Linked DNA regions of Homo sapiens. The protein of the gene in region 3 interacts with the protein of the main gene of each other region in a pairwise test. Each region holds a gene or a part of one and is shown on either strand. Other genes may lie near its edges.

What was found.
Region 1: the proteins of UBAP2 (region 3) and ISX interact in binary tests that used the Homo sapiens proteins (3 or more experiments, as listed by UniProt).
Region 2: the proteins of UBAP2 (region 3) and NPAS2 interact in binary tests that used the Homo sapiens proteins (3 or more experiments, as listed by UniProt).
Region 4: the proteins of UBAP2 (region 3) and TRAPPC6A interact in binary tests that used the Homo sapiens proteins (3 or more experiments, as listed by UniProt).

The regions. Positions count from the first base shown.
Region 1 is NC_000022.11:35,061,516-35,069,164, forward strand, and holds the start of ISX (intestine-specific homeobox), read left to right. Parts: upstream 1-4,642; 5' UTR 4,643-4,947; exon of another isoform or gene 4,948-5,236; 5' UTR 5,237-5,572; coding exon 5,573-5,801; intron 5,802-7,649. UniProt on the Homo sapiens protein: Transcription factor that regulates gene expression in intestine. May participate in vitamin A metabolism most likely by regulating BCO1 expression in the intestine.
Region 2 is NC_000002.12:100,816,109-100,823,138, forward strand, and holds the start of NPAS2 (neuronal PAS domain-containing protein 2), read left to right. Parts: upstream 1-4,030; 5' UTR 4,031-4,306; intron 4,307-5,046; exon of another isoform or gene 5,047-5,091; intron 5,092-7,030. UniProt on the Homo sapiens protein: Transcriptional activator which forms a core component of the circadian clock.
Region 3 is NC_000009.12:33,921,193-33,926,926, forward strand, and holds the end of UBAP2 (ubiquitin-associated protein 2), read right to left. Parts: intron 5,473-5,734; coding exon 5,425-5,472; intron 3,093-5,424; coding exon 3,014-3,092; intron 2,809-3,013; coding exon 2,603-2,808; intron 2,287-2,602; coding exon 2,187-2,286; intron 2,102-2,186; coding exon 1,994-2,101; intron 1,842-1,993; coding exon 1,774-1,841; intron 1,687-1,773; coding exon 1,495-1,686; intron 1,408-1,494; coding exon 1,312-1,407; 3' UTR 501-1,311; downstream 1-500. UniProt on the Homo sapiens protein: Recruits the ubiquitination machinery to RNA polymerase II for polyubiquitination, removal and degradation, when the transcription-coupled nucleotide excision repair (TC-NER) machinery fails to resolve DNA damage. May promote the degradation of ANXA2.
Region 4 is NC_000019.10:45,162,418-45,168,261, reverse strand, and holds the end of TRAPPC6A (trafficking protein particle complex subunit 6A), read left to right. Parts: intron 1-3,067; coding exon 3,068-3,135; intron 3,136-3,291; coding exon 3,292-3,409; intron 3,410-4,014; coding exon 4,015-4,098; intron 4,099-4,252; coding exon 4,253-4,346; exon of another isoform or gene 4,347-4,352; intron 4,353-5,038; coding exon 5,039-5,070; 3' UTR 5,071-5,329; downstream 5,330-5,844. UniProt on the Homo sapiens protein: May play a role in vesicular transport during the biogenesis of melanosomes.

The DNA.
Region 1 (7,649 bases), on a different chromosome or scaffold from region 3:
TATATTAAACCAATGCACTGGGGATGACAGAGAAGAAAGATGGAAGTGCTTAGTTCTTCACATTGTTTTCATGCCTGAACTAAGCCACTCTGCATCCTCCTACCTACACACGTGATTATGTGAATTAACAAACCCCCATTGTTTAAGCCTCTTCAAGTTGGGTATTTGATCACTTGCAGCCAAGATCATTCTGATCCACACTCCCTCCCATACTCAAACACACACAGCCTATAACTTGCCTCCACTTTACTTGGGTTCCCAATGACTCCTTAACTTGTAGTTTGGTTGATGGTAGAGCCATCACTCACAAAAATGCCCATGGCTCTTTTACTGCCTGTGGGATAAAATTCATATCTGGAAAAATCCAAGTGTGTTCTCTCACCTGGCCTCTCTCTAGCTTATTATTTTGTTTTACTTATAACATTGTCACTACAAAAGTAAATTAAAGTGGAGAATACCTGAGCAGACAAAGCCAGTTAGGCCTCATAAGTGACCTTATCATTGCTTGATTTACAAACACAAGCAAAACTAAACTTAAGCTATTTCTTGTGAATGCCTATATTAATGAAAAACAGAACCGAAGTCCAACCAAAAAGAAGCCACCAACAAACTTACATAACTAGGGACTTTTCAATGGAATAGATGAAATAAGGCAACTTTATAACTGTAACCAATCAAATATTTTCCTTGTATCACTTCTTCATCTCTCTATAAAAGCCTGTGTCTTCAACAGACCTCCTGAACCACTTCCGCTTTGGAGCTGCCTGATTCATGAATTGCTATTTGTTCAAATAAACACTTTAAAATTGTATTGCGCCGCAGTTTATTTTTCAACATCACAAATGGAAATTACATTGGGCATTTATGTGCTATCAATTTATTATCTGTTTATTATCTATTTTCAATGTAAGTTCCATGAGAATATAGACCTTGCCTCTTTTAACCACAACTGTCTCCTTAGCATAAAGATCATGGTCTAGCACATCACAGTGGATGCTTCAAAATTATGTTATGGATGCATAAATGATTGGAGGCCGCAATCCACCTTTCCCACATGCTCTTCCTAAATACTTCTTCATAAAATGAAACCCCTCTCTCATCCATGAAACCGGTAACAGTGCATCATTGTATTAGTCGGTTCTCACATTGCTATAAGGAACTACCTGAGACTGGGTAATTTGTGAAGAAAAGAAGTTTAATTGACTCACAGTTCCACATACTGTACAGGAAGCATGGTTGGGGAGGCCTCAGGAAACTTACAATCATGGCAGAAGGCAAAGTGGAAGCAGGCACATCTTCACATTGCAGAGCAGGAGAGAGAGAGAGAAGGGGGAGGTGCTACACACAGACAGATCTCATAGAACTCTCTCACAATACAGCACTAGGGGGACGGTGTTAAACCATTAGAAAATACCCCCATGATCTAATCACCTCCCACCAGGCCCCACCTCCAATCCTCCAACATTGGGAATTACAGTTCAATATGAGATTTGGGGGTGGAAGTGGCAGAGGCAAAAAGAGAGAGGCGATGGAGCCCTTTCTCTCTGCTGGGCCTCGTGCCTGCAGCTGTGTGCTCACCGTTTCACTTAATCCATTCAACAGCCTGATCAATTAGGTGTCATTAATGCCATTTAACAGCTGAGGAGACATGCCCAGAGAAGTGGAGTGATAGGACAGCTAGCCACTAGAAGCAGCAAGATTCAAACCCAGGTGAGTCTGGCTCTGCACCTCACATCCCTCCCACTTTGCTGTAATACCCAGAGACCATCTGGCTCAGCCCTCTCATTTCACAGGTGAAGAACTGAGCAGCAGCGAGAGAAATTGCCAGAGTTACACCTGTTGTTTTCAGCACCTTGTTTGATTTCCTTTCATTTTGCCTCTTTCCAAGGTGTGACTGGCCCCTGGACAGGTTAACAGATCCAAACCATATCAACCATGCATGCCTCAATGTGTCCCTGCTCCAAGTCTTTGTTCCTACAGTTATCACCACATGACCTACTCATTCTTTGGTGCCCAGTTCAAATTCTGCTTCTGAGAGTCAGTAGGGGACACTAGAAAGATCAAGGTAATTGACTCAGCATGGAACACTAGCTGTGCCACTACATAGCTGTGGGACCCTGGGCACATTACTTAAAGCCTCTGAAGCTTAGTTGCTTCACTGTAAAACAGGGCTAAGATATCTACCTTAGCAGAGTTTATTTGCTTGTGAGTTTTACAGTAGATTCAATAAGACAATTCAGAAAAGGGACTTATATATGATGGCCCCTCTCCTTCCTTTGTTGTTCCTCCTCTTCAAAACTTTCATTAATCCAACAGCCACTCAATCTCTGACTTCTCTGACCACCCACAAGATTCCATCACGGACCATTGATACTTCCTGCCTTGTGTCACTGTACGTCTGCAGCCATGTCCCCCTTCCTCCCACCCCACCCCACCCCCACCCCAGAATGTAAGTCCCTCAGGGCAGGGGCCATATCTCTTTCATCTACATCTCCAGAGTGTTTGGCACATAGTAGATGCTCAAGAAATATTCATGGAATGAGCATACATGTGAGTGATAAAAGAATTGAAGTCAGTAACGTCAGGATTATGGCTAATCATGGGAGAGAGGGGAGTAAGCGTCCGGGTCCACACCACAGAAGGGTGTTCTGTTAACCTGTCCAGGGGCCAGTCACACCTTGGAAAGAGGCAAAATGAAAGGAAATCAAACAAGGTGCTGAAAACAACAGGTGTAACTCTGGCAATTTCTCTCGCTGCTGCTCAGTTCTTCACCTGTGAAATGAGAGGGCTGAGCCAGATGGTCTCTGGGTATTACAGCAAAGTGGGAGGGATGTGAGGTGCAGAGCCAGACTCACCTGAGTTTGAATCTTGCTGCTTCTAGTGGCTAGCTGTCCTATCACTCCACTTCTCTGGGCATGTCTCCTCAGCTGTTAAATGGCATTAATGACACCTAATTGATCAGGCTGTTGAATGGATTAAGTGAAACGGTGAGCACACAGCTGCAGGCACGAGGTCCAGCAGAGAGAAAGGGCTCCATCGCCTCTCTCTTTTTGCCTCTGCCACTTCCACCCCCAAAGATCCTGTCCTTGCTCTTGACCAAGCATCTCAAGTACCCATCAGAGCTTCCTCTGCCCTGAGTGTAAGGAACCTTGTCCTCTCATCCAACAACCCCTTCCATGGACCAATGGTGGGCCTGACTTCTAGGGGACTCTGGCCTCTTCACTGCAAAAGTCAACAAACTGGTTCATTTGTCTCCTGGCAGGAAAACTCCCCTGTCCAGCCCTAGGAAAGGGATAGGTCTAAGCAGGGTCATGTGACTCCCTCTGGCCACAGAATGTGAGCAGAAGGTCTATCAACCACTTCCACTTCTGACTCATCAAAATTTCTCCTTTCAACAGAAAACCAAATACTGAATGTTCTCACTCATAGGTGGGAGTTGAACAATGAGAACACATGGACACAGGGAGGGGGAAAATACACACTGGGGCCAGTCAAGGGGTTGGGGGCAAGGGGAGGGAGAGCATTAGGACAAATACCTAATGCACGCAGGACTTAAACCTAGATGATGGGGTGATAGGTACAGCAAAGCACCAAGGCACATGTATACCTATGTAACAAACCTGCACATTCTGCACATGTATCCCAGAACTTAAAATTAAAAAAAAAAAATTCTCCTTTGCTGTCTCCCTTTCCCCAGAAAACTTGGAGCCTATGATTGGAGAATGGTGGCATCACTGTTTGAAAGGAATCTGGGTCCCTAAATGACTACATTAGAATGTGATGTGGGTGAGCTATTATGCTCCCAAGACTATAGGGTTTACTTGCTACTACAGCAGAGCCTATTCCCCCCCTAACTAAATCAGACAGCCTGACACTTCCAAGGGGCACAGCTCCTAAAATGGGGCATCTTTACCTGTTCCCTCTCTCAGGGTGAGTCCCTCTCTCTCCTGACTCACTCTTCTCAGGGAGTGGAGACCAACGTTCCCTATCCTTCACCTCCCACCCCTGCCCTCTATGAGAAGATCTAGATTCTAACATCCAAATTTACATTCACAGTCTCTGCCAGGGTATCCATCCCTCCTGTGCAAATTGGCTCCTTGTGGCCAGCATGGCATCATGGACATCCCCAGGGGAGTACTGTGATCAGGCCCTGCCATCACATTTTCTGTACCTCCTTGGTCTGGACCTCAGTTTCCCCATATCAGAAAGCCCTGGAATGCTTTTCCTGATCTGATATTTGCAAGCCATGGAAAGCACATCTGAGAGCAAATGAATGCCTAAGGCTGACAGCCAGCAGACTGCACCTCAGCCCAGCCTCCCCCACACATGACCACAGGCTCTCCTGGCTGAGTAAACATGTTTTATTGGGCCTGGGTACACTTCCTGGCCATTCTGCTCCCACCTTCCCTTCCCCTGCTCTGGCCAGTTCCCCAGCACAGCCCCTCCCTGGGGCCTCCAATACCTGTCCTTCAGATCCCCACTGCCTCCTGCCACTTTTCTACCCTGACACCTGCATCCCCAGCCTTAAGGGGCGTGGAGAGTTTTTCTCTTATCAGCCTGTTTTACTGCCCCCTCCTCCTTGGTTACACAGTAATTTGGAGCAAAATTCCAGGCAAGGACAGATCAACAACTGTCAGCTCCCAGTCAGAGAGAAAGGGCCTCTTCAGTCTGTCTCAGGAGACTGGGAGAAACAGCATAAAGGACCCCACAAGGAAGGGAGAGGTACCCTGGGTCAGGCGCTTGTGGAGAGAGGGCTTCGCATGTAAAGTGACGTCAGGGAAAATAGAACAGAAAAAAAGCCAGGGCCAGCCCAGAGGCACCTGAGAAGAATCAGACCCACAGCTCAGCCCAGCCCTGGCACAGAGAAGAGACAGGCCTGGCAGCACCCAGGGACCCCCTTTCCTCAGCCTCCACCTGCAGGACAGCAGGAGCACTGATGCGCTGAAGGTACGTTCTGGAGTCTGGAAGCAGCAGAACTGAAGGAAGTAAACACGGGTGTCTGGGAAGACCCCTCAAGCTGCAGTAAAGCCCAGGACTGAATTGGCCACCTGAGGCCAAGGGTGGCACTCCAACCTCCTCCTAAAGGCTGGCTAGAGCCACAGGAAAGGGCCAGAAGCCAGAGAAAGGGCAAAGGTGGACCCCTGCCTCCAAACCTCCTCTGGAGACTGACCTCCTCTTTCCTGTGCCTTATTGTTTCTCCCTCTTCTCTTTGTTCGCCACTGGGCGGTGACCTCAGGGATCCTGGCCTAACCTGGTGATTGTGCAGGCAACTGTGTCCGAGAAGACCCTTCTCTGGAAGATTGAACCCCAATTCAGCCATGGTGACTCCTTTGATGTCAAACTGGTAAGGGCTGAGCCGTGGGCACAGGATACCACTCCTTCCAGCTCTTCTGCTGTGACCTGCCCATGGAAGTCCCTGTGGACACGAAATCCTGTTTGGATCATCTAACTGGAGGCTCTCTGTTCTTCACCTCCACGCGCCCTCTTGACCCCAGGAGGTTCAGGGGAGGAAGTACGCCACTCTCCACTGGCACCCTCCTTGGCCTACACAGAGTCACCCCTGAGCCCCTCAATGTGTGCTGAGGTGGGCCCTGCTCTCTGCAGGGGTATGGAGAGAAATAGCTTGGGGTGCTGTGAGGCCCCGAAGAAGCTGAGCCTGTCCTTCTCCATTGAGGCGATCCTAAAGAGGCCTGCCAGGAGGAGTGATATGGACAGACCAGAAGGGCCAGGTGAAGAGGGCCCCGGAGAAGCTGCGGCCTCAGGCTCTGGGCTAGAAAAGCCTCCAAAGGACCAGCCCCAGGGTAAGTGTCTTCTGATCATTTCTTTCTGTTTCCTGGTCTCCAAGACCCAGCTGGGCTCAGGCAGAGAAAAAGCTTCTCCGTCCATATTAACTGGATAGAGGACTCTAAAATTCAGAGCAAGACCTGGCTCTGGGCTGGTTTCCTGATATACCTTTCAATCTAACCCAAAACTGTGCTTTTCAGCTTCAGACACCAAGGCTCAGTTAGTTGCAGAATGCAGGGACCTGGGGCTTGTTATTGTAACCAGGCCCCGGCTAAGAATGCTAGTTACCATTTATTCAGCATTGACAATGTCATAGGCATTCTCTTTTAATTTCAGTAGAAAAGCATGATTATCATAACTGGACAGATAAGAAAACTCATCTGTGAAAGAGAAGAGGAGGATAATGTCCCCAAGTTACACAGCTGGTAAACAGAAGCCCCGCTATCAGGACCTGGCTCTGACTCCCCCAAATCCCTGCTGGGCCCAGCACAGTCTCCTCCTCATAAGCCAAGTTCAGTCTGCACAACTTCCAGGGGCTGAAGCTTTGCCCAGGGGCCGAAGCTTTGGCTTGGGAAAAGTCTGTCCACCCTGATCACCTTCCCCAAGCCAGTGGCCACCCCAAGGCATGTCCCCAGATAACAGTGACCAGGTAGATCGAGAGCTGGCTTGAGGAAGGGAGGAAAGCCGCACTGGGGCATTGGTGTGGACGCACACACCTGCTAACAGTCAGGAACCCAGGATGTGAGTCTTAGCTCTACCTTGGCCTGCTATGTGACCTCAGAAAAGTCCCTGTCCACTGCAGCCTCAGGTTTATTCTCAGCAAAACACCTGGGTGAAGGAATAAGAAATGGTGAAGCTGGCGATGTCTCAAGGGCCTTGTCAGTCTGACTGTCACTGAGCCTGGAATATCTCACATGAGGTTCTCAGTTCTCTCCCCTTTTCACCCCTTTTAATCCCAGAAAATGCTGGAAAGGAAGCTCAGGGAGCCCTTAATGTCATTACCTGCCATAAATAGAGCTCCACATCCCCACCAACGAGGCAAGTCTCCCATGGAGGGAGCTGATGAGGGGTCGCACTCAGCTGCAGGCATGAGGAAGACCAGGAGGGCTGTGTGTCTGCAGGCAGGAAGGAGCCTGGTGTGTTTCCCTATAGCTGAGTTTTCCAAAGGGAAAGGGTCTCTAGCTTAATTTTTGGAAGTTCATTAATATCTTCCAGTCCATTAAAGATTCATAGGAACATTTCCATTGGGGTCCTGAGTCTCTCCTCCTGCAGTTGTACAAATCTATGATCACCCTGTGTCATGAGAGAGAGGTCTCGCTTTTCCTACCAGAGAAGCTTCCCTTCCCCTAGCCCGATGACGGCAGGCTTCAGAAAGGAAACCACTCTTTCTAGGCCTCCACGGAAGATTCTGGCATGTTCCGTGTCAGCTATCCATCTGGTCCCAGAACAGACCCCAGTAAGTGCTGACCAGACTAGCGGTGGTGACATCGGATGGTGGTATATTCCTTCCACAGCACTTTTGTGGCCATTTTCCCATCTCACTGTCACACTTGGGAGCCCAACTTACAGATGATGAAACCAAGAAGAGAAGATAAATCCCCCACAAAAACTATGTGAGTAATGAGCACTAGAATTGAACCCTGGTGGCCTTAGACCATCTACTCTAGATTATTCCTGAACTTAGTTTAAATCCATCCGTCTCCCACTATGCTGGAATTCGGCATTTCTGAAAGCTTGGAGAGGGTCCCACTGGCGGCTCTCAAGATGACCTTGGTGGGTATGTAGATAAAGATGATCTAGCTCAATAGTCCTGTAATTACTTTTATACTAACCTTGTATTTATGATGAAAGACACTGTTATCTGT
Region 2 (7,030 bases), on a different chromosome or scaffold from region 3:
GTTTGCCAACCACATGATCTAATAGGCACAAAAACCAAGTTAAGTCTTAACCCTACCAGGCAGGCTGTACAAGGCCTTGATTGTCTCCTGGTAGCATCCTCTGGCCCAGGCGGGAGGGCGAGAGCCTGCTGCCTCCTGCGCTCTTCTATTCTATGAAGCTTATGCAGAAACAGCACATCAAGGTGCTAACCTTGATATTGTTTCTTTTTTTAATTAATTAATTAATTTTTTTTTTTTTTTGAGAGACGGAGTTTCACCATGTTGCCCAGGCTGGTCTCGAACTTCTGAGCTCAAGCAATTTGCCCACCTCAGCCTCCCAAAGTGCTGGGGATTAGACATGAGCCACTGTCACGGCCTAATCTTGATATTTGAAACACATGATAGGCGTTCCTCAGTCTTGCTTTCAAAGGTACTCTTCATAAGCCCTGGCCTCTGAGTCAGTCTCCAATTATTGGGTTCTAAAGCCTCTTCTTCACGTTTATACTGACCCAACTTCCCTTTGCCTTGGTTGCTACAATTTTCTTCTCTAGCATAATGTTATTCTATCCAATGATGCGTGGTATTGTGTTTTTTCTTTTGAGTTTTGAAGTGAAAACTGATAATCAGAGGTAAGAATCCACAAATGGGCTTCTGGACATTCACATGAAGAAAGAGGGCCTTCCCACCTTGTGATTAACTAGAAAAACTGTGCTAACATCTGGCATGGAACCCTGTTCTTATTGTCTGTTCCAAAGCTTATGCTGAAGTCATTGAATGTATACATCCAACAAGAGTCCCAAGCCCTGGGCTAGTGCTGTAATTCGTATAGCAGCCCACACATTCTTGCCCTTGTGTAATACCACGAATGAACACCCATAGTCACCCAATACATATTTTGAAAATTTAATGTGTGCATATTTAAAATGAGGATATGCCACAGATTCAACTTCTATGATGGAAAAGAATATCCAATTTGACTGTGAGAACTTTGAATTATTTCACCGATACCTCTAAAGACTGATAAAATTGACTGCAAAAATTTTTTTATCCTCCCTTCCATACATTTGGATTCTTTGAAAAATATCTGGAGTTCCTGAATACATCAAGGCAACATTCAATCAGTAAAGCCATGTTCTTTTAAAGGCCCAATGACTGGAACTCAGTGAGAATGTCCCAAAACTGGCAATGCAGTTTTGAAATGGCTCTTTTGCTCCATGCTGCACATTTTGAACAATGCATAGATGATCTATTGTAGCTTGGCTTTGTTATTTGGTTAACGAAAAATCCAAGCACCAATGTCACCTCTTCCAAGAAGCTCATCCTGAGTCCTTCCTCGGCACCCATGGGACATCTGCTTTTGGCTTGGAGGGCTTTTCTGACCCTAGCCCTATTTGGCTGGTGTTTATGCCTGCCTCAACATAGTAAACCCTTTGTGTATAGAAACTGCCTTAATGTTCCCTTGATCCCTCACAGGCCAAGCCCAGCCTGACTCATGGCAAGCCTTCAACAGATGTCAGTAAAAGGAACTCAACCGTCAAATGCATAGAATGAACATGGGGTCAACTCTCCTCCGTAGCTCTCTTCCGCATGTGGGGGAAAGGGCCTAGTCTAACTGGCTTCTGTGATGCAGAATCCACTCTGCCTTATGGTCAGATAGGATATGTGGCCTATCTTAGAGGTATCCTTCCCATCTGGGTGAGATTAACATTAGGACACGGGATGGAGTTTGGAATAAATACGACAACCACATACACGTCATCTCCAGGACTAAAAAGGCAGAAACCACATTTAGTAGGGGCATCTACTGGACAACAGAGAAAAAGAGACCACAGCAAAAACACTTTTTGTACTGCAGAATTATTTGATGAGTTACTACTACAGGACATTCCAGGTTTCCTAAAAGAAAATTTAATGATTGTTCAACAAGTTCCCAAAAGGGAGTAGGAAAAGGGAGTTGGAATCTCTTCCAAAGCAAAAAAGGAAGGGAGGTGACTTTAAATAATGCTTTAAAACCGGTTAGAAGTACACAATTTCATCCTTTAGTAATATTAGTCATGGCCACGCTCTAAAGGCGGGGTGAAACCTACTTGCCTGGAGGAAAAGGACGGGGTAGAAAAACAAAGCAAAATAAAATCCATCAAACAAAAGTTTCTTCTTTTGGAAAGGGAGGGACTTCAAAATCATGACAGGCCAAATGCCTCCTCCTCTTTCTTGAAAAGCCCTCCAAGTCAGAAGCAAGCCTGAGAATAACAGCTGCTCTTAGGATGCTCAAAGCTCCTTGCAGCTGATTATTTTTCAGGAGGAGAATTAGACACAAATAATACAAGTGGGAAATAAAGAGAATGACCTACTTTACAGGGGGGGTAAAAAGGAGCTCTGTGTGAGCGTTTTGATCTAATTGACGGTGTGGGGTTGCATGCCCAAATAAGGCGCTGCTGGTCGGATCTGCGAGGGAGAGGGCACGTCTCAAACTCGAGGGAGAGGACGAGACAGCGAGAGGAACAGCGTCCGGGGCGACCCCCAGTCCACCGCGGGGGCCTGGCGCGCTTGGGGCAAAGGCCCTAGGAGACCCCTTCTGGCCACAAAATCGAGTATGACAGAAAAGGGCCAGCGGGGGCGCTTTCCTTCCAGGGCCACTTGCCGGAATGTAAGAGGGACGGAGAGACGTCCGGAAAAGGCTGCCACGCTCGGAGCGCTGCGCCAGGCCAGGCACCTAGGCCAGGGGAGCGGAGACCTCGTGGGAGCGGGCAGGGGGACCTTTCCCCTCTCCCGGGCTTCCACCCAGGCGCCTCCCCGCTGTGAACGCCGCCGCCCAGGTGAAGGGGAAACCGGCCACGTTTCCGGACCTCGGCGGGGCACACGGTCTCCGGTTTTCACCGGCTCTGTCTTGGAGCCCCGAAGGGCATCAGACAGCAGCCCCGGCACCCGGGGATTATTCCTGTACCTCTGCCTCCCTCCGCTTGGCGTTTGCGGGAACCTTGGTAAAATCCTCCCTGTTTCTCGCGCGCGCCTCTCTCTCCAGCTTCTTTTTCTTGGATTCTCGCCTGTCTCCTCCCACAGAGGAAAAAAAAAAAAAGGTCACGTATGTTTGGAAAAATATGTAGGTCAGTGGAACATTTCCTGCACTGGTGCAAAAGGAGAGGAGGGCAGCGGAGGAGGGGAGGGAGAGGCAGAGTGGAGCTCCAAGTGCCCGCTCCTGGCCGCAGCCCCACACCCCACGTGCCCCTGCCGGGGAGGGGGGCAATTAGCCGGTTCCTTTCCATCCTTGACCCATTTTCCGGACCAGCTACGTTCGCCTTAGGACAGGCACTGGTTATTCCTCCCCAGCAGTCGCTGCTGTCCTCCGCCGACCACCGCTCGCCCGCATCTTCCCCGACCCCCGCCTCCCACCTGCCCCCGGGCCGCACCCCCGCCGCTCATTGAGAAATCGCAGTGGTCCCCGCAGAGACGCGCTTTGTGCCCTGGGTCGAGACCTGCGCGCAACCCTGCCCCTGGAGGACAGTGTGGAGGGGGTGACAGTCGCGTGCTCGTCCCCCTTCATCCCCTGCGCGGGACAGCAGGGTGGCGGCCCGCACTGCGAGGGTCTACACTAGGCGGGGGCGGCAGATTCCTTGTTCCCCCCGAGTGACAACTTTAATGGGACCTCGGCTGGCAGCCTCTAGTCCACTTGCCTCTCCTCTGGGCCGGCTCACCTGGAAGCACAACCCCCCCCTCCCCCAGCCCCGGCGCCCAACCCCGACCCTGCGCCCCAGGCCCGACCCCGCCGCGCGTCCCTGGCAGCCCAGCAGAGGCTGCGGCGGCCTGGGGACTCGCGGGTGTCTGCGCCGCCCAGGGAAGCCGGGGGTCTAGGGGGCCGGGGGTCCGTCTGCCTGCGGCGCGCGCGGGGTGCTTGTCCCAGGCTGGGTCGGGGCCAGGAGAGACCCCGCAGGCGGAGGCAGGCGAGGGGAGGAGGAGGAGGGTGGGGGTAGGAGGGGGAGGTGGAGAGGGAGGAGGGTGGAGGGAGGAGGCAGGGGAGGAGGCAGAGGCGGAGGCGGCTCTCCCCGCCGGCTCTGCGTGCGGAAGAGTTTGCCGCGCGAGCAGCCGGCCTCTCGCAGGAGCCGAGGGACCCGCGCGGCTGCGGCCCAGGAGCGGCGGCCGCGGAGCCCGGAGACCCGCAGCCGCGGCGGCGGCGGCGGCGGCGGCAGCAGCTAGAGCAGCGCCTCCCGCCGCCGCCCGGGAGGAGCTCGCCGCGCCCGCTCGCCGCCTCGTCTCCCAGCGGCGGCGGGAGGCGCGTCTCCCCGGCCCAGTCCGCGCCCGGCCCCGCGGGGCCGCTCCGGCCCGCTCCGAGGTAAGGGGCCGCGCCTAGGGGCGCGGGGGACCCAGGGTGGGTAGTACGTGCGCGCGGGGTCGCAGGACTCGGTCACCTGCTCGCCAGCGTGGAGGACGCGCGGGGGCGGAGGGGCGCTCAGGCGCGAGGCTGCGCGGCACCGGGGACCCCGGACGCGGGGGCGCGGAGAGGTGGGTTCCCCTCCACAGTCAGGCCGCTGGGGGCTTCGCGTCCTGCAGGAGGTAGCAATCGCTGGGCCGGTGGGCTCCGGGCGCGTCTCGACGCAGAAGACAGAGGACTGGGCATCCGAGCCTCGGAATTTGGGGGTCCTCGGGGTGTCCGACAGGGTGGAGAAGGATCGTGCCCCAGGGCAACAGCTTTGGGGATTGCCCGTGGTTGTCTTCGAGACCCATCGCGCTACCCTCCGAAACGTCGGGCGTCCTGGACCCCCGGAGAGTGCGGCGTGCGCGCCCTGGGCCCGCGGTCTCTCGGAGTCCCTGGGTCGGAATTGGTTCCGGGCCGGATTGGGTGCGGAATCGGTGCCCCCAACCCCCGTGTGCGCAGACAGCGTGCAGCCTGGCTCCTCACGTCGCTGCCGCCCCCCCACCCCAACTCCGGAGCTCCCCAGGTTGGATGTATGCGTATGGTTTTGTTGGGAGATGTGCCCCTTTCCCAGCCGAGGAGGGACGCACCTTTGACCTTTCTGAAGAGCTGGGCAGGTCGGTAACCAGGGAAGGGACAGGCACCACCCGGCTAAATTCAGAACCAGTCCCGCTCCTCTGCTTGCCACTCCTTAATTGCTCAAGGTAAGAAAGTTTGTTTCAGCCCTGTGATTCATAAATAATTAGTAACTAGTTTTGTTGATTAAGCAAGATGGAAACCTTGAATATACGCACGCACTTCCACAAAGTCTAAACACTCCCGAGCTTGTGTCCGGGAGGCTTTAGTACGGAAAGTTAGAAGCCCTGGAGTTCAACAGGTGTTCAGGAGGGTCCCGGAGAGGAGTTTCGTCTTTACGCGTTGCTTTGGCATCCACCCCAACTTCATTAAAGTGGTTAGCCTGTTTTCCTACAGGTAAAACATTGATCACTTATTAAATTAACTTAATCAGCAGAGACGAGCTAAACCGTCTTGATCATTTAGAACCCAAACCTTATTTTCCTTAATAGAAAGGTTTTTCCTGTTTGAACTTCCCAGGTAATTAGTTCTAAAGTAGTTCCCAGCAAGACATCTCTGCCAGCATCTCTCTCTCACTGTAGCTTGGTCCCCATCAGTGAATTGACCAACTAATTATGGCTTGCATTAAACACAGAGCTGCCCTCCTTGGGAGGCACTGTTCACATTCAAGCGCACACACTAGCTCCATCTTCCTGCCACTAAGATGTCCTTAAAGGAAAAAGTTAGCCAAAAATAACCCCCAAATAAATAGTGTAATGTTTAAAAGAGTTATCCTGACCTGCGCCACTATTTTATAAAAGCAAAAATTCAGTGTTTCATTACAGCGCTAAACCAGGACCAGTAGAAGTATTGGTATCTCTCAGCAGTCTACTTAAATATTTAGTTAAAAATAAAGTGTGCAAAGTAAAGACGTTCAGTAATTATCTTCCATCTCACAGAGAGATGTGGAGTATGGCTTAGAAGAATTGTAAATGCGCTGCTTTTAGCCGTTTTCTTCTTGGAAATCGATGCCTCTATTTATTTGCTGATCTGTCCCACTGTGCGTAAATGTAGAATCGGTTTTATTCTCACTGCTTCCCAGAGGGGCTCCTGTGGAGGTGAAAGAAGGAAATACGTTCTAGAGGAAATATGTTATTAATAAAACGTTACCCCCAAAGAGTTAACCACGCCAAAAATAACCAAGTGAGGCTTTACTAATTAGTGGTCTGATGAGAGAGTGTTCAGATGATGACTAAAGAATTGATCTTTATGTAGAAAACAACAATTGTTTTTAAGCTCATTTGGTTCTCTTAAAACAGTTTGGGCCCTTTAAAAAAATTTCTGGCTGTTTAATAATGCAAATGATGAAAATCGTTAAAGATAACACATATAACCTGATGTGTGCCATGTTTAAGTTGAATTCACCCTATTTTTTTGAACAATCTTTCTTAACTCTTGGTAATCTTTATAGCTCACTCAACACTGCAACTTATTAGATTAAAAACTGAAAGTTAATTTTTTCAGAATAAAATAATAAGGCATGCGTATACTTTTTAATTTAACCATCTTTATATGTTCATTTTTTCAGAGTCTTGCTTTTGAATCTTAAGAACCCAAAGGGCTAAGTCTTCTTTCTTAATTTTTAAAACAAGCATGTGTTTTGTTCTTTACATGAATCGTCGGTTCTCCCAGTGTGATCACGACACTGTCCCATGCTGATTCCATGCACGGTGCAACTCTTTCCCAAGAGAGGTCAGATTTCGAGGTGTTGAAAATAGCCCAGTGACTCAGTATTCTTGGCTGCTTTATGCCAACGGTTTAATTGGCTGCATCATAGCAAGCATCTAATTGAGTTTCACATTTAAATAGTGGATAGGGTACTTGGTGCATTATTTGCTTACAGAAGTGTCTGATTAGCATGTTCCTGATCCTCGTTCTATTTGTAGCAAAGATGGGAGGTCAGGGACTGTCACATTTCATATTCCCCACAGCATCTCATCTCGATGGGGCCTTGTTCAGAATAGATGCTCAGTAAATAGGTGTGGGAAATGAGCTGAATTGTTGGTGGTCACTATCCAAAGGTGAGAA
Region 3 (5,734 bases):
ACCAGCCTACCTCATGACACCCTCACTAGTCACGTGTTCTACCATAGCTTTTGACTGCCAATCAAGATTATGTTCAGTTGATGACAAGCAAAAGACAGGTATACCTGTTCATACTCTCCCTTAAGGCCTAGAACCCTGCTCTCAGTTCTTGGCTTTGCTTCAGATTGTAAAAGTCCACTGAGATTTGGAAAAGAAATTACCCTGCCCTGGTATCCAGTGGACAGGGCTCTGTGGGACACTGCCCTATCCCTAAGTCTCTTAAGGAGCTATAAGAAAAGCCAGGTTAACTTTGATCAACATGGCCTGGGCCCTGTAAGGAGGTTTAGCTGTCCTTACAGCCATTGTGATTTGGGCCAAGAGGGTCCAGTAAAAAGGAAAACCATTTCAAGCCTTTATAGCCTGTGTCAGAAGACTATGACCATGTGGGATCTCCTTTAGCCCTGTGAAGTCCAGGGCTTCTGCCCTGAGCTGCCCTTCAGTCACACCACACAGAGACCATGCATGCTCTCAGAACTTTATTAGGTGGGGATTGGGCAAGAGAAAACCCCTGAAACAGTTGCCCACGTGGTTCAAGACAACTAGAATGGAGATGTGTTGCTTGGAGATACCTTAGATTTTTAAAGGGGAGCTGACTGGCTGAATAACTCAGATTATTTTTTTTTTTTTCATGGTCAGCCAGTCTCTAGTAAGTCTCTAGGGACATGACCAGACCAGAAGCCCCTGTTCTATATGAAGACAAACAGGTGGCCATACTTGGGTGGAGGGATACCGCTGCTATTCCCAGATGAAGATTTGGTGGAAGGAGACCATGACAGATGACAAACGGAACAGTTTCTCAAAAACAGAGGTATGAAGTAATTACACAGGAAAGAAAACAATTTCCAAAGGAGTGAGACAAGTCGTGATTCTTCATTGGTACCTGACCCCTATACCCAAACAGCCTTGAACCAGCCCTTCCAGAGACTGCCCCTAGTGGCCCACTGGGCAGTGCAGGCTGTGAAGAAGACCTGAAGGCAGATGGGGTGGGGGTGCTTATTTTGCTACAGTGGAGAAGGGGCTTGAATGGGGAGGGCAGACCTGGCTAACATCTGCCGCCATCCCCCAACTCCCCCCCAGACTTCTATCACATTTACAAATACATACATAAATACATTACATACAGTAGCCAGTCTGGGAGGCAGACTCCCCACAGAGGCATGGCTGACACATGTCGGGAATTCTAGGAAAGGGCACTGGGCTCCCAAATACGTGCTCGTGTGTTCTCTCCTGCCCAGGATAAGCCTTGCCCCAGCCCACCCCTCTCTTCTGGGTTTAGTTTGTCCAGTATGGAGAGTTGCCGTAGGCAGGTTTGGAGGCTTGAGACTTGGGCTGCAGGGAGCTGGGCTGGCTGCGCTGACCCGAGCCACTCTGAGGAAGAGGAGAAGGGAAGGCTGTCAAGGCTGGAGCAGAACCCCTGGCCCAGAGTAGGGTGGCTGCCTCCATCACTGTACTCACCTGTGCATCCTGCGGAAGGTGGTGGTGCAGCAGCTGTGAGTGGGGCTGCTGGTGGGCTGGCAAGATGTGTAGGAATGGTGGGGGTGCATAGCCAGGGGCCGCTCCCGAGGCCAGGGGCCCAGTGGAGCCCAAGACCGAGGGCAGGCTGAAAGGTGGAGGCGTCCCTGCATGAAATCCCTGCTTGTCAAAAGTCTACAGGGCAAAGAAGACAATGGTGAAGGTCAGGTTGGGCTGTAACCTCTCAAAAACCTATACACCCAACCCACCTTTGTCCCTCACCTGTGTCTTATTGTAGACAGAACCAGTCATATCAGGTAGACCAGTGGTGCTTGAAGACACTGATACTCCTAGGAGGAAAAGCAGTTGTTCCCCACAGCAGTTGTTCCCAGCTCCAGGCTCCCCACCTCCAGGATCACTCAGGGGTTGCCCTGCCTGAGAGGGGATCAGGCAGGAGCCCACCACTCCAGGCCTTATCCTGGAAAGGAGAGGTAAACACTACCTTTGCCAGGCCCAGAACCTGCAGACTTGTTTGGTGCCTGCGATGATCCAGCATAGCCACCTTTGGAGTAGTCTCCTGCTGCTGTCCCCTGGGTCAGGTCGTCATAACCTAGCGTGGCAGGGTACAAGAGGCAAGTGTGAGCCAGGCAAGCCTGTCTAACCCCATGTGTCTCTGTCTGGGAAGTACCCCTCACCTGTACTGTAGCCGTGCTGGCCATAACCACTGGCCTGCTGGAAGGGAGGTGTGGGAGTGCTGAGGTTCACCCCATGTTGCTTGGCTGAGGCTGGAGGGACCTGGGGGGGCAAGCAGATGAGGTATTAGTGTAGGAAGAGGCAAGCTGAGGCTGGTCAGGTACCCCTGCCAGAGCCTAAGGCAGCAGGTGACATACCCACAACCACAGGGGACCTGTGTTTTCATTAGTGCAACACATGCTGGATCTAAACACAGCAGGGGAAAAGTGACCTTGTCCCCAGCCTGAACAGTTTCTGAAGACCAGGTAAGACGGAGTGGAATCACAACCCTCCCTCCCTGCTGGAAGATAGGTCCCAGGTTTCCACCTGCCAGCAACCCAAGGCCAGGAGACACAGTCACACCCTCTGAAATACTCACAAACATGGTGGGGCCATACTGGAAGGCACTGGGCATGCCTGTGTAGTAGGGAAGACCAGTGTAGCTATAGCCAGGTGGCAGTGCAGGATTCACGAAGGGCTGCTGGGCTGTGTGGTGGGTCTGTGATTGGCTCTGCTGTGGCTGAGCTGGTGTGGTAGCGGGTGCAGGGGATGCAGAGTCCCCACGGCCAAACTTTGTGACATCACCTAGGAAAGAGCACTGACTCCAGCCACTGCCCTTCCTCCAACCAGAGAAAGGCCACACTGGCTTCTGCAAACAGGAACAGGTCTGGCTGCCAGCTCAGCACAGGCTACTAAGAGGCCTCTCTCAGCTTGCTGTTGCTGCTTCCCAGCTCCTGGAGTTCGCGCTAGGCCGGCCCCGGGCTACTCCTCATCCATTGAGCAAACTCACCTGGATATGGATTATTAGCTAGGCTCCCATCTCGGCTGGCAAGCGCTGTGGGTGCAGCAAAGGGAATTCCATAGTAGTCCTAGGAGAGACCAGGGAGGCTTGATCAGCGACTGGCCCTGCTTGACTCCCAGGAGAGCAGAACCAGCACATGGAAGTGGTGACGCCACACTCCTGAAACAGACTCCATGCCTGAGAGCCAGCAGTCCCAGGGAACGCCAAGTAAATGGTGCCCCTCGGAAGAGTGTGCAACTAGGCGGCCTGCCTAACACATAAGCACACAGACCGGCCAACCCTGCAGCTTCACCAGGCAGAGCTGCTGGAGACCAAGCCTCACACATCCATTTGACACCACAGGCAGGTGCTTGTGTGAATGCCTCGGGCTGAACCAACTTCGCTGGCTTTTCTGTGTGAGAGACTAGAGCAGCTAGGAAAGCTGACTAAACAGAGCAGACCTGAAAAAGGAGGCAACAGAAGTGCAGGGGCCTGAAAGGTTTAAGGGGGGACAGGGGGCAGTGCCAGGTAGGCACGGGAATAAGCAGGACCCCAGGTGAAGCCCAGAACTGGCCTGTCACCACCTACACTGCTCTCAAAACACTGACATGGCCTAGGACAAGCTTGTCCAACCCACGGCCCATGACAGCTTTGAATGTGGCCCAACACAAATTCGTCTTTCTTAAAACATGAAATTTGTTTGCAATTTTTTTAAGCTCATCAGCTATCTTTAATGTTAGTGTATTTTATGTGTGGCCCAAGACAATTATTCTTTCAATGTGGCCCAAGGAAGCCAAAACATTGGACACCCCTGGCCCAGGACTTGGGGGAAGTATGGCAGATACAACAAAGTGTGGAGACAGAGACGGCAAAGCACAGTGGAGCTTCGTGGAGGAGGGGAGGTCTGACCTGACCCTCACTCACCATCCAGGGCCTCGCACTCCTGGACACACCTGGCCCCTGAGGAAAGGCAAAGCCCTTGGGCTGTGCCCGATCCCAGAAAGGAGCCATCCTGGCTGGGAATGGCACTCACACCCTCCAGGAAACCTCCCGGAAACCCATAGCAGCCTAGAACCCCCGGAAGAGGCAGAGCTGGGAACACACAGAGCTGCACAACTGAGGACGGGAGCAGAGAAAGCCCAGAAGGGGGAGCACTTTCACAGAACACGAGAATTCTCCAGGCAGGAACTAGGCTCACAAGCAGCAGAGGTGAACAAACAACCCGAGGGATAGAAAGAGCAACATATCTCAAAAGGTGGGCTCCAGAGGGTGTTTTCTCTAAGGCACAAAGTGATAAAAGCCAAAAGAGTGCTGTGAATAAGTGTGGAGACCACGGAGAGCCCCTGAAGCAGAATGAATCCCGGGGCTCAGCACCACCTCCTGCAGTTTGGGCCTTTGGCCGGCAGATTAAAGGGCTGCTGGTTTGCACAGTGGGGAGAAGCCGCTCCGCTCCCAGGCTAGGCCTCTGCTTCTGGAAATACGGCCAGCCAGTGGAAAGGGCTACTCTTCTGAAACAAGAGCAGCTCCGTCAGCTCTTTGTGGTGCAGCAGAGAAGGGAGCAACACCCACGGGGAAGAAGGCATCACTGCACAAGGGAGAAAGCCTCTTCCTCCAGCAACAGGAAAGACTGTATCCAGCAGAGGTGGTGTCCAAACTGCCTGCAACTCTCTGACAAGTGCCCTGGGAAATGGCAGAGCAAGAAGACAGTGGCTCCCAGGAGGAAGTCCTGCCCATGGGCAGGGCAAGGAGCGGGCCTATTCCCCTCTGTCCCCACAGTTCTGTTCATGTGGCTATCCCAGGAAAGGCCCACACTGCATTCTGGCACCAACGGTCAGAAGAAAGAGGCAACCCTGGTCTCAGAGTAAGGCTGCAACCACCAGGGACGTCCCAGGGCAGGCATTCTCACAAATCTAGATGGGAGGCCAGACCCAGAAGAGACCTTAAAGACCATCAGCTCAAGCCACTCACTCAGCTGATTGCAGAAGAGCAGTCACTGGCCATCTCAGACCAAAGACACTATATGGTACTCTGAGGAAGAGGAAGACAGTATAAAACTCCAGGGCCACGTAAGCAACCTCCATGTCTTGTGTCATATGGTTTTTCTTTTTAAAAAAGAGAGAGAAAACAAGATGGAGGAGGGAAGATAAGGACCAACATTTAACAGGGGACATGGCCTACCAGGGCCCCAGGTCCCAAAGGCCTTCATGTTTCCCAGGGATGAGCACTGGATACTCTGTGCTAAAGCTATGGTCACGCCTGGCACAACCGCCAGATGAAAACAGCTTTCTCAGTAGTGGTGCTGAGAGGTTCCTCAGGCAGAGGATCCTAAGGGCCAGAGAGTGTGGCAGCCAAGACCATAAGAGGGGGGACATGTAAAAGATTCTGAACCCTCTGCTCCGACCAGTCCATACCCCACTCACCACTGGCAGCCGTGACTGCAGCATCTGGAGCTCGTCATAGCCATAGATCTGTGTGAGAACCAGAAAGTGTATTTTAGGAACCACATACCACACCCTGGGAAGCCCAGGTCCATCTAGGAGTCAAAACAAGGTTGGGGGGCTCTAACACACCCGGGAATGGGATCTGGATTAGCTGTTACGGGAACAGATCCTGCCTTCACGGAGTCTAGATGGAAGAAGACCACCAGGGCTCAGTGGGGCAGAGACGGGGGTGCTCAGGGATGGAAGGGCAGCTCAAGGTGGGCAACCTGGGCCCAACGCCAGGTTCCTG
Region 4 (5,844 bases), on a different chromosome or scaffold from region 3:
GGAGGCCGAGGTGGGTGAATCACGAGGTCAGGAGATCAAGACCATCCTGGCTAACATGGTGAAACCCCGTCCCTGCTAAAAATACAAAAAAATTAGCTGGGCGTGGTGGCGGGTGCCTATAGTGCCAGCTACTCAGGAGGCTGAGGCAGGAGAATGGCGTGAACCCGGGAGGCGGAGCTTGCAGTGAGCCGAGATTGCGCCACTGCACTCCAGCCTGGGCGACAGGGCGAGACTCTGTCTCAAAAAAAAAAAAAAAAAAAAAAAAAAAGACAGGGTCTTGCTGTTGCCTGGGCTGCAGTACAGTGGCATGATCATGGCTCACTGCAGTAGCGACCTCCTGGGCTCAGATGATCCTCCTGCCTCAGCTTCCCAAGTAGCTGGGACACGGGTGCATGCCACCACACCTGGCTAACTTTTGTATTTTTTGTAGAGAAGGGGTTTCGCCATGTCGACCAGGCTGGACTCGAACTCCTGGACTCAGCTGGGCGCGATGGCCCACGCCTGTAATCCCAGCACTTTGGGAGGCCGAGGTGGGCAGATCACCTGAGGTTGGGAGTTCGAGACCCGCCTGGCCAAAAGAGAAGAAACCCTGTCTCTACTAAAAATACAAAATTAACCGGGCGTGGTGGCTCATGCCTGTAATCCCAGCTACTGGGGAGGCTGAGGCAGGAGATTCACTTGAACCCGGGAGGCAGAGGTTGTGGTGAGCTGAGATCGCGCCGTTGCACTCCAGCCTGGGCAACAAGAGCGAAACTCCGACCTCCCAAAGTGCTGGAATTACAGGAGTGAGCCACTGCGCCCGGCCTAATCTTTCTTAAACGTATGTATAGCTCACATTTATTTCAGTGTTTAATATTTCAAGTGTTTTCATCCTTATTTAGAAGTTTGGTGATGTGTTTGTACCAGAAATATGGCATTGGAACTTCACTCTTGTTTATGTTAATTAACCTGCGTGAAATTGGTTTCATCATATGTCATTTTGCTTAAAGCCATAGTTTCCAAGAGCCTGTTGACAGCATTAGGTAAGGACTTACGGTGTCCTTTGTTGATGCACGTTGTCTCATCAGCCAGTCTGTTAAGCACCACCCACATGCCAAGCTCTGTGTTGGCTGCTGAAGGCCGGATGTGAATTGGTCAGCCTGGGTCCCCACCTTCACAGAGCTGTGTCCTCATCCAGGGACAGTGTGCAGTGGGCAGGGCTGGGGACGCAAGCTGGGAGGGAGGAAGGGAAGGAAGTCGGTACAAAGGCTCAGAAGTCTGAGCGAATGTCCTCAGGGGGCAGAGGAGAGGGTGAGGGAGGGATGGAGGCAGCTGGGCCCGCAGGCTGCAAGAAGCCTTCCTCGGACACGCTCTCCAGGCTGGGAGACCCGCTCCAGGGCTGGAGCCAAGCAGAGAATTCGCATCCCCATTCGGATGGCTGCGCTGATGGTGCAGCCCTGGAGGGAGGAGGCGGTAGCTGCCATTCCCAAGGGAAGGTGGGGGTCAAGGGCAGGAGAGGGAGGGCTGCAGGGCTCAGGCCTGGTGACTGCAGGCTCCTGAGAGCAGCCAGCGGGAGGGTGAGCTTCCTTCAGCTCAGGGCTGCACACCTGCCGCCTCTGTTCCCCCACTTCTGCTCTGCCAGGCTTTCTCTGAAAAACCTGGCGCCTCACGCCCCAGCCGTCCTGGGATTTCTGGTGCCCCCCAGTCTGGGCCTCCTCCCTTCCTCTGCTTGCAGCAAAACACCCGAATGAAAAAAAAAAAAAAAAAGATCCATGGCCAGGTGCAGTGGCTTTTGCCTGTAATCCCAGCACTTTGGGAGGCCAAGGCGGGCGGATCACTTGAGGCTAGGAGTTTGAGACCAGCCTGGCCAACATGGTGAAACCCCATCTCTACCAAAAATACAAAAATTAGCCGGGTGTGGTGGCACACAGGCCTGTAATCCCAGCTACTCGGGAGGCTGAGGCAGGAGAATTGTTTGAACCCGGGAGGCGGAGGTTGCAGTGAGCCAGCATTGCACCACTGCACTCTACCTAGGCAACAGAGTGAGACTCTGTCTCCAAAAAAGAAAACTCGCCAGGCGCGGTGGCTCACGCCTGTAATCCCAGCACTTTGGAAGGCCGAGGCGGGCAGATTGCCTGAGCTGAGGAGTTCGAGACCAGCCTGGGCAACACAGTGAAACCCTGTCTCTAATGAAATACAAAAAATTAGTAGGGTGTGGTGGCGTATCCCTGTAGTCCCAGCTACTCTGGAGGCTGAGGCAGGAGAATTGCTAGAACCCGGGAGGCGGAGGTTGCAGTGAGTCAGAGATTGGGCCACTGCATTCCAGCCTGGGCAATGAAGCTAGACTCCATCTCTTAAAAAAAAAAAAATCCATGAGCATCTCCTCTCCTCCAGCCATGCCCTCCACACACACAGGCACGTGGACAGACACCGAGTGCAGCCCTCCTACCTGGGGCCTGCCTCTGCCAGCACAGTCCCCTCCTGTATGGACCCTGGCCTACCCTCCAGACACTACATGGCAGCCACTGTCCTTTTCGAGCACCCAAACGAAGATCTGCCTGTCCCGAGCTTCCACGTGTTCCCCAGGGATCTTGGCCAATATTATAAGGCATGATGATCATGGTTGACTTCCACAGCCCCCTTTCCTGTGGCCCAGCCTCCAGCCCTTGGGCAGGTCACCTGGAGCATCTTGGTGGAGTCGCAGCGCCCACTTCCCAGGGCATTGTGAGGGTTCGCGCTGAAAGCACGTGCAGCCTGTCATGGGGGTTATCAGGAAAAGTCATGGAGGAGGAAGGGAGCCTGGGGAAGACCCCCATTGTTCCTGAGGGAAGGGGGAGCTGGTTCTTGGGGGCTGATGATCTGGGGATCCAGAGAGCCTGCAAGGTCTGCAGAGGTGGGTGAGGGAGCCCCAGCACCCTAGAGGCCTGCCCCTGCCCTGGCCGGGCTGTGCCAGAGCCCCTCCCTGCTCACCCCTGAACTGACGAGCACCAGCAAGTTGGTCTTTGGGTCCCCTGGCAGGTCCCCCCCTGGGTGGCCCCGGGTTCGTGGTGGCTAAGGGCCCCTGAGCATCTCTCCCCTGGCCTTCTAGGGACAGAAGATGAGCCTGTCGGTCCTGGAGGGTATGGGGTTCCGTGTGGGCCAGGCTCTAGGCGAGAGGTGAGCGCGGCCCCTCCTGCTCTCCCCCAGCCTGGCTGGCAGGGCTGGGCAGGCCCCGGGCGGGGAGGGTTGCATTGCTCCATGCAGGAGTCGGGCCTGTCTTCCTCCCTCTTCCTGGCCTGGCCCCACGGCCTCAGCTTGGTACTGCCCCACCAGGCTGCCCCGGGAGACGCTGGCCTTCAGGGAGGAGCTGGATGTCCTCAAGTTCTTGTGCAAAGACCTGTGGGTGGCGGTGTTCCAGAAGCAGATGGACAGCCTGCGCACCAATCACCAGGTGGGAGCACCCCGGCCTGCCCGTCCAGCTTCCTCCTGAGGGCAAGACCAAGAGAGTGGGAGGGGAATCCCCCGGCGCCAGAGCAGCGGCTGCCGGGACCCGCCCAGAGCTTTCCCACAGGCGGCCGCAGCTCTTGCTCTGTCTGATCCTCTAAGGGAAGCCAGGAGGCTGCGCTGGGGCATAGGGGGTGTTTCCGGAACTTCTCCAGCCTACCAGGAGTGAGCCATGCATGGGCAGAAAGCCCCTGGTGGCTGCCTGCCCTACCCCCAGTGTGATGCTGCTTGTCCCAAGCTGGTCTAGTCCCCCAGTGACACCCAGGCTGTACCTGCCCTTCTGCATCTTCCTGGGCCGGGTCCCCAGCTTTTCTGCACAACCCTGGGAGGCGAGGGCAGGACCCACACTCCCCAGGGCACAGGCACCCACTCCAAGTTTGGAAGCCCTGGGCCCTACCAGAGCACTGGAGGCCAAGGCTGTGACTCCAGTGGTTCTCAGGAAGGGGGCCTTCCCAACCTCAGCCCAATCTAAGACCTGGGTTCCTGCTTACCCTCCCTGCGCTTCAAATGTACAGGCCCCGACCCCACCCACCAGCCTCTCCTCTCCCCCAGGGGACCTACGTCCTGCAAGACAACAGCTTCCCCCTCCTCCTCCCGATGGCCTCTGGCCTGCAGTATCTGGAGGAAGCACCCAAGGTATGGGGGGAGCTGGGGCCTTGTCCACACCTCCCTTCCTCCTGTTTACCCAGCCCCATCCCACATCAGGCCTTTCCCCAGGCCTAAGGGGTGCCCCAGACCTCGGGTGCTGGCCTCCCCTCTCTTCCCATGCTGGTCTGTGTTCCCTCCTCAGTTCCTGGCCTTCACCTGCGGCCTCCTGCGCGGCGCCCTCTATACCCTGGGCATTGAGAGCGTGGTCACCGCCTCCGTGGCAGCCCTGCCCGTCTGTGAGTCATGGGGGGTGGGGGGATTCTTCTCATCCCTTGAGTTGCTGGGGGCTTCAGAGTTCCAGCCCCACTCCTGTGTGTGTGCCTGGGAGGCAGGCCCAGTTTTAAGTCACCTGCTCAGCCACACGGCTGGTGCAGGCCCATCTGTGCCCCTGGCTCCGTGACGTCGCCAGCCCTGCAGAGAGAACTGTCTGGCGGTTTTGAACATCGTTTCCCAGCATGGGAGCCGAGGTGGACGCAATAGAAGTTATCCTCACTGATCCTTCGATGGGGGCGACGGCAGGCTCCAGGGAACTTGCAGCCTGCCTGACTGGGTGTCCTCTGTCAGACAAGCTGGAGCCCCATTCCTGCCTGGGGACAGCCTGCCCCACCACCTCCCCCACCTTCAGTTATTTTGCCTCTGCCGGTTCCCCAGGCCCACTCATGGGGGCCCCCGGGGCCCCCGTGGGGTAGGACCGAGCAATGCATACCACAGAAGCCCGTGCCGGGCGCTTCCCTGGGGCCACATCCGTGGCCCTCATGCTCCTGGTTACTCACACAGCTCAGGGATGCGGCCCCGTGGGCGGGAGGAAACAGCCCAACCTAGCCACTGGGGTGTCAGTGCAGGACGGGGGTGAGCGCCTAAGAGCCGTCCAGGTGCCCTCTGCCTCCCCCATCCCATCCTCAAGCCTAAGCCAGGCCTTCTCTTCCAGGTAAGTTCCAGGTGGTGATTCCGAAATCCTAAGCCTGCCTCGCACCTGCTGAGCCGCACTGCTGCCCCTGGCCTCACCGGCCTCAGGAGACGGTGGGGCCGCTGCATTTCGGGGTGGTCTTGGGAATCCCAGGCCCTAGGGGTCACATTTGCTCAGGAAGTGGGTATCAAATTGAGGTGGGGGTGTCAGAGGAGGCAAAGGGGTCCCAGCTGCGGTCAGGACTGTGGTGGGATTCCCGCCTCGGCAGCGTCACTGCCCAGTAGCTGCTCAATAAAGGCTGTGTGTGTGGAATCTGACTCAGAGCAGTGGGGGAGGATCTGTGGACCGACTGTCACAGGTCCTGCAGGGGAGTGGGTACCCTCTCTGGCTCCCATGCCCCTCAGACCTTCCCTCCCCTGCCACGTCCCCCTCCACTCCCTCCCTCCCCGTGCTCCTGGCAGAGGGATGCTGGCCTCCGGCATGGGCGGCCTTACTGGCACCTCTGCCAAGTCAACAAGTCTGGGGCTGCCCTCTGCCCGGCGATGTGCACAGAACGGAGCGTCTTCCTGGGGAGCAGGGCTGGGAGTGCCCGGAGTGTAGGCCAGGTCGGGCTGGGGCTGCCAGGGCTGGGGATGCATGGGGTAGGGGGAGGCCAGACACCCCCATGGACACACGCGGCCCCTACGCACTCCTGCTGCCCGTCCCTGGGCAGAGTGGCCCTTATGCTGCCCCCTCCCACCCCGCTCGCATCTGTAGCATCTGGGGACTCCTGGGCTTCGCCGCCCGCTGCCTGACATGGGTAAGTGCCCCAGGCTCAGAGCTGCCCA